Linked DNA regions of Homo sapiens. The protein of the gene in region 3 interacts with the protein of the main gene of each other region in a pairwise test. Each region holds a gene or a part of one and is shown on either strand. Other genes may lie near its edges. The genes, in order: THSD7A, RPRM and CD33.

What was found.
Region 1: the proteins of CD33 (region 3) and THSD7A interact in binary tests that used the Homo sapiens proteins (3 or more experiments, as listed by UniProt).
Region 2: the proteins of CD33 (region 3) and RPRM interact in binary tests that used the Homo sapiens proteins (3 or more experiments, as listed by UniProt).

Annotation. Positions count from the first base shown.
Region 1 is NC_000007.14:11,830,611-11,834,359, reverse strand, and holds the start of THSD7A (thrombospondin type-1 domain-containing protein 7A precursor), read left to right. Parts: upstream 1-2,161; 5' UTR 2,162-2,413; coding exon 2,414-2,603; intron 2,604-3,749.
Region 2 is NC_000002.12:153,477,280-153,481,028, forward strand, and holds RPRM (protein reprimo), read right to left. Parts: upstream 1,484-3,749; 5' UTR 1,287-1,483; coding exon 957-1,286; 3' UTR 59-956; downstream 1-58. UniProt on the Homo sapiens protein: May be involved in the regulation of p53-dependent G2 arrest of the cell cycle. Seems to induce cell cycle arrest by inhibiting CDK1 activity and nuclear translocation of the CDC2 cyclin B1 complex.
Region 3 is NC_000019.10:51,223,069-51,226,817, reverse strand, and holds the start of CD33 (myeloid cell surface antigen CD33 isoform 1 precursor), read right to left. Parts: upstream 1,739-3,749; 5' UTR 1,727-1,738; coding exon of another isoform or gene 1,700-1,726; coding exon 1,663-1,699; intron 1,601-1,662; coding exon 1,220-1,600; intron 1,016-1,219; coding exon 737-1,015; intron 510-736; coding exon 462-509; intron 1-461. UniProt on the Homo sapiens protein: Sialic-acid-binding immunoglobulin-like lectin (Siglec) that plays a role in mediating cell-cell interactions and in maintaining immune cells in a resting state.

The DNA.
Region 1 (3,749 bases), on a different chromosome or scaffold from region 3:
ACCTAGAAATTGACCCCGTATAATGCTTGAATTTGTAGCTATGATGTTTACACTCTTGACAAGTTGAGTTATTATTATACCACCATGGGTAAATATAAAGGTCAGAATCTTAAAATTTCTTTTGACAATAAGCTATTAAGTATAGTGTCGGATGGCTTTTTGAAGGGCTAGGTAAATGACCTTGCACATTAACTTAATTCCTCAGACTCTCTGTCCTCTGTTATATAATGAATTCCCACTTGGTGAATTGATTGGCGCTTCCCACGAATGCGTAGAATGGCTGCTGTTAGCAGAGTATGTCCAGTTTGAAATACTTCCTGTGCCAGAGTTAGAGGATTTCAAGGTTTAGGGCACTAACAGTAGCTGAGAAATACAAGCAGAAAGGATGGGAAAATGATTCCTTGTGGAGTGGACATGGAAATTTTCCTGAAACGACAGAACCCAGGAAGCAATAGCAGGTCCCATTTCCTTCTGTGGTGTAACTGTCAAAAGAAGTGATCCTTCAGGGAACCATACATTAGTTAAGATCAGGCTTCCTTTTTATTCCTTATCAACCTATAATCTTTTGATTGTTGCCTGTTTTTCACGAGTGAAGAAATAGTAAGCCACACTAGCTTATCTCTCCTAATCACAGACTCACAGCGCTCGGGCTCTCTGAGCTTTTAATTCCTTCTTAGAGGCCTAACAGAGCGGAAAGTAAACAAAGACCAAATTTGCAACCTTCAACGTAGCTAATTTCCTCTGATGTCAGAATACTTAAACAGGCAGGACCTGGGAATTATTTGATCAAACCCGCTTTTAATCTAATGCATGCAGAGGGGCTGTGTCTGGAAGGCTTTGCAAAATGACAAGGGTCCCAAGGGAGCCTTATGGAAGGTTTCCTCTTTCAGAAAGAGTAGCTTCCTCATCTTAAACTCTAGGGTAGCTATGTTGGAGTAAATTCATAAAAAGTAGTTTTCCTGCTTTTAAAATTTTATTTTATTTGGCTGAAAATTGCTGATGGGATAGTAGTTTTCTTTGGCTTTCCGTTTGCTGAATTTTTAATGGTTAAATGCCTACTATTTTAGCTTTACTGTGAAATGAATTAATAATAAAATATATTATTATTAGCTAAAGGGAGAAGGAGAAAGGGGAAAGCATTATCCGACTTCACACACATTCTTCTATTACTACTGGTAGAAGAAAGTGAAAACACAAAGGACAAAAGATGCAAACACATGTGGTTCCTTATTTAGATTGCGACAGGCATTTTGCTACAGTAAGAGTTAAGAAAAATCGGTGTCAGGGAAATTTTAAATGAAGAATTTACTAATTCCAAGATATCCAGACAGCATTACTGACTCAGTTTGACTCACAACTATCTGAATACTTAGAAGTAGCATATTTTTGAGGGAAAGAAGTAGATGAAGGGACAGAACTCTATACCTGAAATATAATTTTAATTTTAAGGGTTTTTTTTTTGTACAATTGTATTTATGTAATTAGGTAGCATTGCAAATACTCATTAACACTAATTCAGTTTTAAAGGCTATTAAAAGACAATTTAATTTGTCACAGAGCATCAATATTGCTCATATTTTTATTGATAATAGATTAAGTTAAAAACAACATTTAAAGAAGGGTTTAAGTGCATTTTGACAAGTCAACATTTCTGCTCTCGTGTTTTCACACCTGATCTCAAATACTGCTCCCCACACAAAGTAATTCAGAAGCCATGGCTTAAAAATAGATAATAAACACTGATGCTTTGTGTAAATACGTACTAAGAATAGCATGCCACTAGATCTAGCATTTGACTCCTTGGATGACAGTGAATATCAATGCCTGTTATTTGTCATTCTGAAATCTGCCGGGTGATGATTCTTTTTATTGGTGCATCCTTCCAAACATATTTCATCGCACCATGTGCACCGGAGTTCTTTAGGCGGGTATGTCGGAGGTGGGTGTCGCCTGGCTGGCCCCTCTCCCCTTTGCTCGCCCCCTTTCTCGCCCTCGCGCTCTCGCCTCCCTCTGCCTCCAGCCCCCTCTGCTCCTTTGGGCTCACGCCCCCCTCCTCCCCCTCCAGCTGGCGGGGGCTGCGCTGCCTCCCAGACCTAGCAGACCTGCTCAGTCAGCTGGGGCCCCCTGAGGACAGTTGCCTCCGGAGCCGCCGGGACCTGCCATTCTGCGAGGAATGGCAGCGGCAGCAGCATCCCCGCCAGAGGCGGCGGCGGCGGCGGCAGCGGCCACGGCCACCACCGCGGACGCTATTGTTCCCTGGTGTTAGACGCGCTCTCCCTCCTTCTCATCTGAAGCGAACAATAGCAGGAAAGAGCTTTGCTTTCTGTACTCTTTGAAAAGACGTTCCAAGAGCGGAGAAAAATTCCCTGCCGAGCGTGCTACGGCTCTGGACCCTGGAGTGGCTGCAGGCGGCATGGGGCTGCAAGCCAGGCGCTGGGCGTCCGGGAGCCGGGGCGCTGCGGGGCCGCGCCGGGGCGTCCTGCAGCTGCTGCCGCTGCCGCTGCCGCTGCCGCTGCTCCTGCTGCTGCTGCTACGCCCGGGCGCCGGCAGGGCTGCGGCGCAGGGCGAGGCGGAGGCGCCCACCCTCTATCTGTGGAAGACTGGTAAGTGGGACGGAGTTACCCTTTCCCCATCTTCACATCTGGGGCCACATTAAGGAGCTGGTGGGCTTCTGTAGGGACCCCGGTGCTTTTGGATGGCTTGGTTATGCTGGTATCCTAAGGTAAAAAGTATGATTTCTTAGGAAGCAAATAGGTCATGTCCGATGCAATTAGGAAAGAAAAGCATAACAACTAAGAGGCAACAGTGAGTAGCTGGAATATTTCTCTCGCAGCTCTGTAATGAGGGCAACGCGCACTTCCATGATGAAGTGCATTATTTTTAACCCCTGGATTTTCATTCTACTAGGAGTTTCTCAAACAGATTTCTAGCAAAGAACAAGCAAAGAGTTTAGTCTCAGTCTTTATTCTTTAGGCAAAGCAATATGCTCACTGTCATGACATTTGTGGATATAGAGTTGAATTTGTTAACTTTAGCTTTGTGATATGTGGGACACCTCAGAAACAAGCCAAGTGAGGGCGGTTCCAACAATTAAAGGCAAATGGGGCTCCAGTGAGCCTTCAGGGAAAGACTGAAAACTCAATTATTAACTAGCGAGTCGGAGGATTTTTAAAGTGTACAACTTTTAGGATGTCTGGGTTCAAACTTTCTCTTCCTTCCTTGAGAATTGTTTTGCTTTGTTTTTCAACCACCCAACAAAAGCAGCTACTAACTGCCCATCATTACCCATTGGCAAAATGCTTGGAGTTTCTGGCGGGGGCCGTGACAGGCAGGAAAACAATACGGAGTGAGGAATTACCAACCCCTTTTCTGCGGGTTCGCTTTCTCTCTGCATTAAAAAAACATTGAGAATTCCTTAGGGGACCTGAAACTTCACATGTTCATAGGAATAAAATGGGAAAAGATTATTCCTGTTGCTTAGAGCTAGGGGGTAATTTAAGAATAACTTGGTCATGCCAAACATTAAGAGAATGTTGTAGTTGAAAGGGAAAGTATGTATTCGTCATGGGGTTGCAAACAGGTTTCAGGGAGTGAGTGTCTTTTCCTGCTTCAGCCCATCTCTGCACCACTACTGAAGAGACAGCTCAGTCTACTCTACAATTGCATCACTATCGATATCTGGAATTTTTAAAGAAGTTGCAGCTATCCAGAAATTTAGTGAGGAGATTAAACAGAAATTTATTTAAAGT
Region 2 (3,749 bases), on a different chromosome or scaffold from region 3:
CGCCGCCCCGTTCCCCCCTGCTGGGGAGCGCAGAATGACCACCAGGAGGCCAGGAACAAAACGCTTAAATGTTGCATTTATTAAGGAAATGTTAAATAAGAAAAAAACAAAAAGTCAAAACGGTGTCACGGATGTCAAGAGCACTTTTGTGGCGTAAACCGTGCAGTCACGAGCTACGAGTTCTATTCTGGGTCTTTGTCCCAGGGCCAGCAGGAACGCTAGACGCCTCCCAAAAGACCCAGTGGGAAATGCACTAAAAGAAACAACTCACCCCGTTCAAATTCGCAGGCTCCCCCTCCCCCCACCCCTTCTCCCACAATGACAAAACTGTAACTCCTCAGGCAGGCAAACAGGCCACTGGGGCAGAAAAAGACTTATCAAACATTTGTATTCAAGCAAACAAACACAAAACCTCTTAAAACGGCACGTTACAATCAAAGGTATTTATCGCCCCTCCCCTCCAGGGCAGGGGGGGAGCAGGAGAAGAGTGGGAGCGCACCCGGACACGGATTTGTGAGACCCCATGAGTCTGCTGCGTGGCTTTTAACAGGTCACTCTTCCGGTCACAAGGCGATCAGTGCCGCTGGGTCTCTCCCCTGCCCGCCCTCTCCACCTGCCCCCAGAGCTTGGCCCACCTGCGGGTGGAGAAGGGCCTTCGCACCGTCGGTCTCCCCGCATTCCAAGTAAGTAGCAGCTTCCAAAGTTCTGCGCCCTAATCGCCCTCTTCTTGCCACTTTCTGCTGAGTTCAGAGTCTGGGCGCTCTCCTCCGACTGCCAGGCATGAGGACTTTCAGAGGGCGAGGGAGAAACCGGTCGCTTCTTTCCGAAAGGCCGAAGTCGAGAGAAATAATTGACTCCGACAGGTTTGCTTCGCCCAGTCTCTGATAGTGAGGGGCACAGCCGGGCTAGCAAAGTGGGCAGGCGTGGGAGCGGTTGCCGCGGGGGCAGAGGGCGGGTCAGTAGGGCCCCACGACCACCGCCTCCACCTCCTTAGACGGCCTCCGGTCCTTCACGAGGAAGTTGATCATGCCCTCGGACTTGATGAGCAGATTGCAGCCGAGGAAGAAGATGCCGAAGACCACGGTGAGTGAGAGCACGCACATGACCGCGATCTGCACCACGCGCATTATGTACAGGCTACGCTCGTCCGGGCCTCCCTCCGCGAAGCCGTCGTCGGTCACCACGGACGCCTGGGTGCAGCAGCGCACGGCTCGCTCCAGCGCCTCGCTGCTGTTGGCCAGGAACAGGCCCGCCACGTCCGTCTGGTTGCCTAGGGCCGGATTCATCGCAGGAACGGGCGGGCGCCGCGAGCGGCGCGGGTCCGAGGGGTGGGAAGGCGGCGGCGCTGGAGGAACAGGTGCCGGGCTGAGCGCTCACTCGCAGACTAGCGCGTGCGAGGGCTCCTCGCTCTGCTTTCGAAAGTCCCTGGGCCGTGGGAGTTTCCCAGGAGCCTCTCCGACGCGCGCAGCAGCTAGGCTCTTCTAAAGCCGTCCGCTCCAGCCCTGGTGGTGCTCGTTCCCGGCGCTCGCTCGAGGGGGGGCTGTTGGAACTTGGCGGGGCTGGACCAGCCCGGCCGTGGGAGGTGCGGGCCGCGGCGGCTGCAGCGGCGGGGTGGCTGCGCTGAGCAAACAGCGGCCCCTTCCGGCCGCACCGCCGCGCTGCGCGCTGCTCTTGGGAGGTGGAGGAAGCAAAGGGGCGAACCTGGTCTTGCTTTTTATTGCTTGCTTCTTTTGCAAACTCCAAAGGCCAGGCAGAGGTCACTGTACTCTTCTAGCTTGATGGATGATTAAAGAGTTTGTCGGGGGAGGGTGCGGTCAGCTGAAAGTTTCAGAGGAACTGGGACACACGAGCTCTGCGTGTCCTTTGCCTGCTGCCCCCCTGACCTCTGGGCGAATGGAAAGTGGCGATGAATCGCAGGTGCCAGATGGTGCCGGCTGAGGCCACCCGCCCACTGCCTGTGCTTGACTCCGACTCGCCTGCGTTGGATTTCTAGTGGAGTGGAGGTGATCTGAGAATGTTTCTTACAAAGCAATGAATTTGGAAAGACAGAAAGGCATGGAAGAAGGAAGGAAGAAAGGAAGGAAGGAAAGAAAAAAGGAAGGGAGGGAGAAAGAAGAGCTCTACACCCAGCTTCCTTTACAAAAGCGATTGGGAGACAGAGCAAGGCAGGTTTTACCGTGAGGTTTGAGGCCAAGGAAAGAGGGTTAGAGGAAGGAGGAGTTCTTCTGTGGCCCTTGGGTGGAGGTAGTTGCCGGGAGCAGGGTCACCTCTCTGGTAAAGGAGGTGAACAGAGTGACCACTTGCTTGTAATTTTAATTGCAGATAAGTTTTTGGATGTGCTTCCAGCATTTTGTCCGTTGGCAGTAAATCAGTTGTTGAAGGGAATTGCTCATCAACATCCATCACCTAGAACGCTGGCCAAATACTGGGAGCCCTCCCCATTTTCCATAAGCTGATGTATTTCACCCTTAGTCATTTAAACTAAACACAGATGTTTTTATAGGCCTGATTGACGCTTCAGCCATTGTGATTTTGCTCTAGGTTCCAACGAAATTCTATAAACCTGTCAGATTAAGTTTCTTAACTCTGAAAGAATATTGCATGTTCCCGCTCCCCCTTTTCTGTTTTCTTTCCCCTCCCTCCTTTTCCCCATTACTCCCTGCCTTCCTCCCTCTTTCTTTCAGCTGTAACAGCTGGAAACCAGTAACTTGAGCTTCCAATAGAATACATTTACTTTCTATTAAATGTTCTCACCACAAAGAACTGATAAAAATTTGAGATAATGGGTACGCTAATTACTCTGATTTGATCATTCCACATGTATATGTGTATCAAAATATCACTTTGTACCTCATAAATATGTACAGTTGTCAATTAAAAATAAAATAAAACTGAAAAATAGTAGCTGTCTTGCCATTTTCAACTCTACTCTTAATTTCATTCTGTTTGCTTGGTAAATCCTCTTATTTCTGTTTCTTAAAACATCATTTATTCCATCTTCAGAGTGTTCCTTAAATGTTTTTGCACTGCTTCATGACTATCATAAAATAGAATGAAATGCCTTCTGGTTGAGTTTTCAATTTTTTGATATTTATGGTATATCAGCTGCAATAAGTTTGATTTTTTAAAATAGCTATTATTATTTTGAGGGGGATGTTTAACAGCTGAAAATTCAGGCTTGGGCTTCTACCACAATTCACTGGCTTATTGTTCTAGTTTCCCATAATTTAATTAGAATTGAAAAATACCTCACTCTCGGCAATTTCTTCTTTGAAGAAATTTATTAATAATTGATAAGTAAGAATTTACTTAAATCTCATCATACAATCAGTCTATCTTAGTTAATGTGGGTAGTCCTCAAGAATAATAAAACGTAATGTATACATGGAAAAAATTACAACAAATTTAAGGCAATATAAAGTCATCCTGAGATGAATGGTAGAGAAAAGTAATAGAAATTTAGAAAAATAAAAGGTCAGAGAACAGAGGCCCACCTCCAGGGATCAAGTTGTACAGAACTGTGTGTTCAGTAGAAGTTAGGTGTAAGCAAATGGAGAGCCCCTTCTTTATGTGACAAAAACCAAGAGTTAGTTTATAGTACATTTGTAAGATCCAATATGGAAGGATGCTAAAAGTGTTAGTTGAATCATTATCAGAATTTGAGTATATTTATTGCTAGGAACAGTATTGCTGTTTTCGTCAGGTCAGTGTTAAAATGATCAAACCTTGGAGTCAGGAGAGTTTTTATA
Region 3 (3,749 bases):
AGAATAAGTTCTGGTGTTCTATACCACTGTAGGATGACTATGCTTAACAATAATAGATAGCTTCAAATAGCTAGAAAGGGGATATTGAATGTTCCCAACAACAATGAAATAATAAATGTTCAAGATGATGGATATGCTATTACCCTGATCTGATTACTATACATTATTAGTATGGAAACATCACTATGCCATCCATAAATATGTACTATTATTACATATCAATTAAAAATAAAATACCCCAAGACATTCAGAGACAGGAGGGAGACAAAGAGCATTATTTGGATGGGCAAGGGGGAAGTTGCTAGTCATCCCCAAATATCCTTTTCCAAGGTGCCTGATGTCTACCCGTGTCTAACTGCAGGCCTTGCCTCTGAACATTTGACTCTGAAAGTCCAGATCTGACCAAACCTGACACAGACTCAATGTCAGTAACAGCCCCAGGCGGGGAGGCTCCTTCCTACCTGAGCCATCTCCTGGAAAGATACCAGTTGTTGGGTTCTGTGGAACATCTAGGAGAGGAAGAGAGGATTTCCTTCAGTTGGGGGTAGAGATGAGATAAGGGTAGGCATTTCCCCTTACTCCTGCCAGAAACCACAGAAATGCAGAAGGGACAGGGCTCATGTCCTTCTGGCTCCCGAACTCAGCCAGGCCTCCAGGACACTAAATGTCCCCAGCACCAGCCCATCCTGTCTCCCCTACACCCTCAGGGACCCCAGCATCCTGGCCCAGCACTTACAGGTGACGTTGAGCTGGATGGTTCTCTCCGTAGTCACACCAGCTCCAGCGAACTTCACCTGACAGGTCAGGTTGGTGCCGTGGTCCTGGGGCCGTGGGGTGATTATGAGCACCGAGGAGTGAGTAGTCCTGGGGCCCAGGGAGGTGGGGGCAGCTGACAACCAGGAGAAGATCGGGGGTGTTCCCTGCTCACAGGCCCAGGACACAGAGCAGGTCAGGTTTTTGGAGTGGCCGGGTTCTAGAGTGCCAGGGATGAGGATTTTGGGCCTGTGGGTCAAGTCTAGTGAGGAGAAAGAGGGGATGCAGAATCAGGAGGGAGGGTCCAGGTGAGGGCCTGAGAGAAGATCAACCTCTGGTCAAGCTCCCCCGCTAAGCACGACAGGCTTTACCCCTAAACCCCTCCCAGTACCAGGGTCCCATCCCAGCCCTGCCCTGCAGTACCCATGAACTTCCCTTGCGGCCACTTCTGAAGCCTGTGCCTCACCTGTCACATGCACAGAGAGCTGGGGAGATTTGTAACTGTATTTGGTACTTCCTCTCTCCATCCGAAAGAAGTATGAACCATTATCCCTCCTCCTGGCGTCTACGATGCTCAGGGAGCAGTTGTTCCTACTGGGATCCCCAAGGAGGCGGAATCTGCCCTGAGTCTCCTCCTGTACTTCTTGATCTAGCTTGTTTGTGGCCACTGGAGAGTCCCTGGATATAATGGCTCCTTCCCGGAACCAGTAACCATGAACTGGGGAGTTCTTGTCGTAGTAGGGTATGGGATGGAAGAAAGTGCAGGGCACGAGGACGCACAAACCCTCCTGTACCGTCACTGACTCCTGCACTTGCAGCCAGAAATTTGGATCCATAGCCAGGGCCCCTGTGGGGAAACGAGGGTCAGCTCGGCCCAGCCCGACAACCCCTCTCCCCACAGCCACTCACCTGCCCACAGCAGGGGCAGCAGTAGCAGCAGCGGCATGTCTGAGGAAGCAGCTTCCAGGGCTTCCTGTGTGAGCAGAAAAGAGGAAGGGAGTGGAGGGGAAGGACTACAGGGCCGGACAGGAAGCTGGGGAGGAGCAGGAGACCTCAGCCCTGCATGGAAGAGGAACCTCAGACCCACACATGCTCAGAGCTTGTCCCCTCCACACAGATTGACCCTCATGGGCCAGAGATGCCAGAGACCCGCCCAGAGATGGGAGGAGATGGAGCAGAATCTGAGTCTTGCCTTCCAGGAGCACCAGAGCCTGGATCAGTACCTTCAGGGCCATCTGAGACATGCGAACCCCATGTCTAAAGTCCTTCCACTCTGAGGTGCTTTTCTGTGCACAACTGTTTACACCAGGGCTGATCACTGCTGGCCTGGCCCGAGTCGCAGCCTCACCTAGATCCATGGGGTGTTTAGTCCAGCAGGATATAGGATTCTATAGGGTCCGTGTGAGTGTCTGGGGCAGAGAAACAAAGAAGAGTCCTAGGTAAAGTGAAGGTGGCAGCCATTCATTTATTCATTCATTCACTAAAGATATAGTGAGTGACAGAGCAGGAGCACCGTCATCTCGGAGAAACACTGCCTCTTTAAGTTCCAATTTCCTTTCTAGCCTCATGCATTTCAAGGAAATCACTTCTCTGCTAACTACAAGCAACCAGAAAGAGCAGACAGTGAAACACAGATAAGACAGCTCGGGCACAGAGGGAGGTAGGGGGAGAGTCTCTTGAGTTACTGCCAAACTTCACCCTCATACAATGGCCCTAGTAAAACAGTGGGCCTTAATAAGCAAATTCCTTTCCCTTCAGGTGCACTAAGATAGGGAAGCTAAAAGCAGACTCAGTGGGTATGCCTGTAGCTGCAGAAAGATGTATGGGTACAGACACACACCTCTCTCTCCCAGATAAGCACAACAAAGAGACTCAGAAGCAGTCCAAGTCTCTGATAAACTCTCCCACCCTAAATCCTTAAAAACTCTTAGTCTGTAAGAGAGTGTGCCTCTGACTTAACTCGGCCAGAAACTCCTCTCAGGTTTGTTTTCTCTAAAATCTGTCTTGACTGGTGAGCCACCATTCGTGTTTCTTTCCTCTTTCTTTAATTCTTACAGTGAGCCTTTGTGTATAGGTGGGGCTTGAGAAGAGATGCCACTGACCTGATTCCTGCCCTTAAGATACTCCCCATCCATAGCCTCATGTCCTCACCACACACACACATGCTGTCTGGCTTTAGAGCTGTGAAAAGTTGGGAATTTGCCATGTATCATGGTAGCATATTGGAAATTTTAAAAGAAATATGACTATAGAATTTTCCCCTGGCACCTAGTACACTGATTTGCACAGTGTCAATGACATCTCCAAAACAAGAACCATGCAGCATCTTCCTGTGAAACAAAAGGGAGAACACATGTTCTATGAACCAGTGCAGAAAAAACTTCTTTTCCATTCATGCTGCCATTTGGTTCAGTGTGGGCAGAAGCAAGTTTTTTTAGAGGCTCATCATATGGATCAACATTTTCTTTCATGTAAAAATCTGCTTCTCACAGTTAAATATGGCCCAAAGACATAATATTTCCAGACAACATGAGTGGAGTGTACAGAGAAAATTAAACTTTAGGTCCAGCTACATGGTTTTCCATATCACTCTGTGTAGTATGCATCCAGCAAACCGTTGATCCCTGGGACATATTAGTACTTGCCACCATACCTTTGTCAAATCTCTACACACAATAGTATCTAGATAACTCTTCATTCATCCTTACTAATAGAGAGGTAGCTGCATCCTCATTTGATATACAACAAATTAAGTCTCCAGTAAATAATATCTGTTGTAAGTTATTTAAATATTTAGCATGTGGCACGTAATAGAAAATTCAATACATTTAGTGCTTTTTTTTTTAAGACAGGGTCTTGCTTTGTTGCCCAGGCTGGAGTGCACCGGCCTGACCACAGTTCACTGCAGCCTTGACCTCCCAGACTCAAGTGACTCTCCCACGTCATCCTCTCTAGTAGCTGGGATCACAGGCTCATACTACCAGGCCGGAGTAACT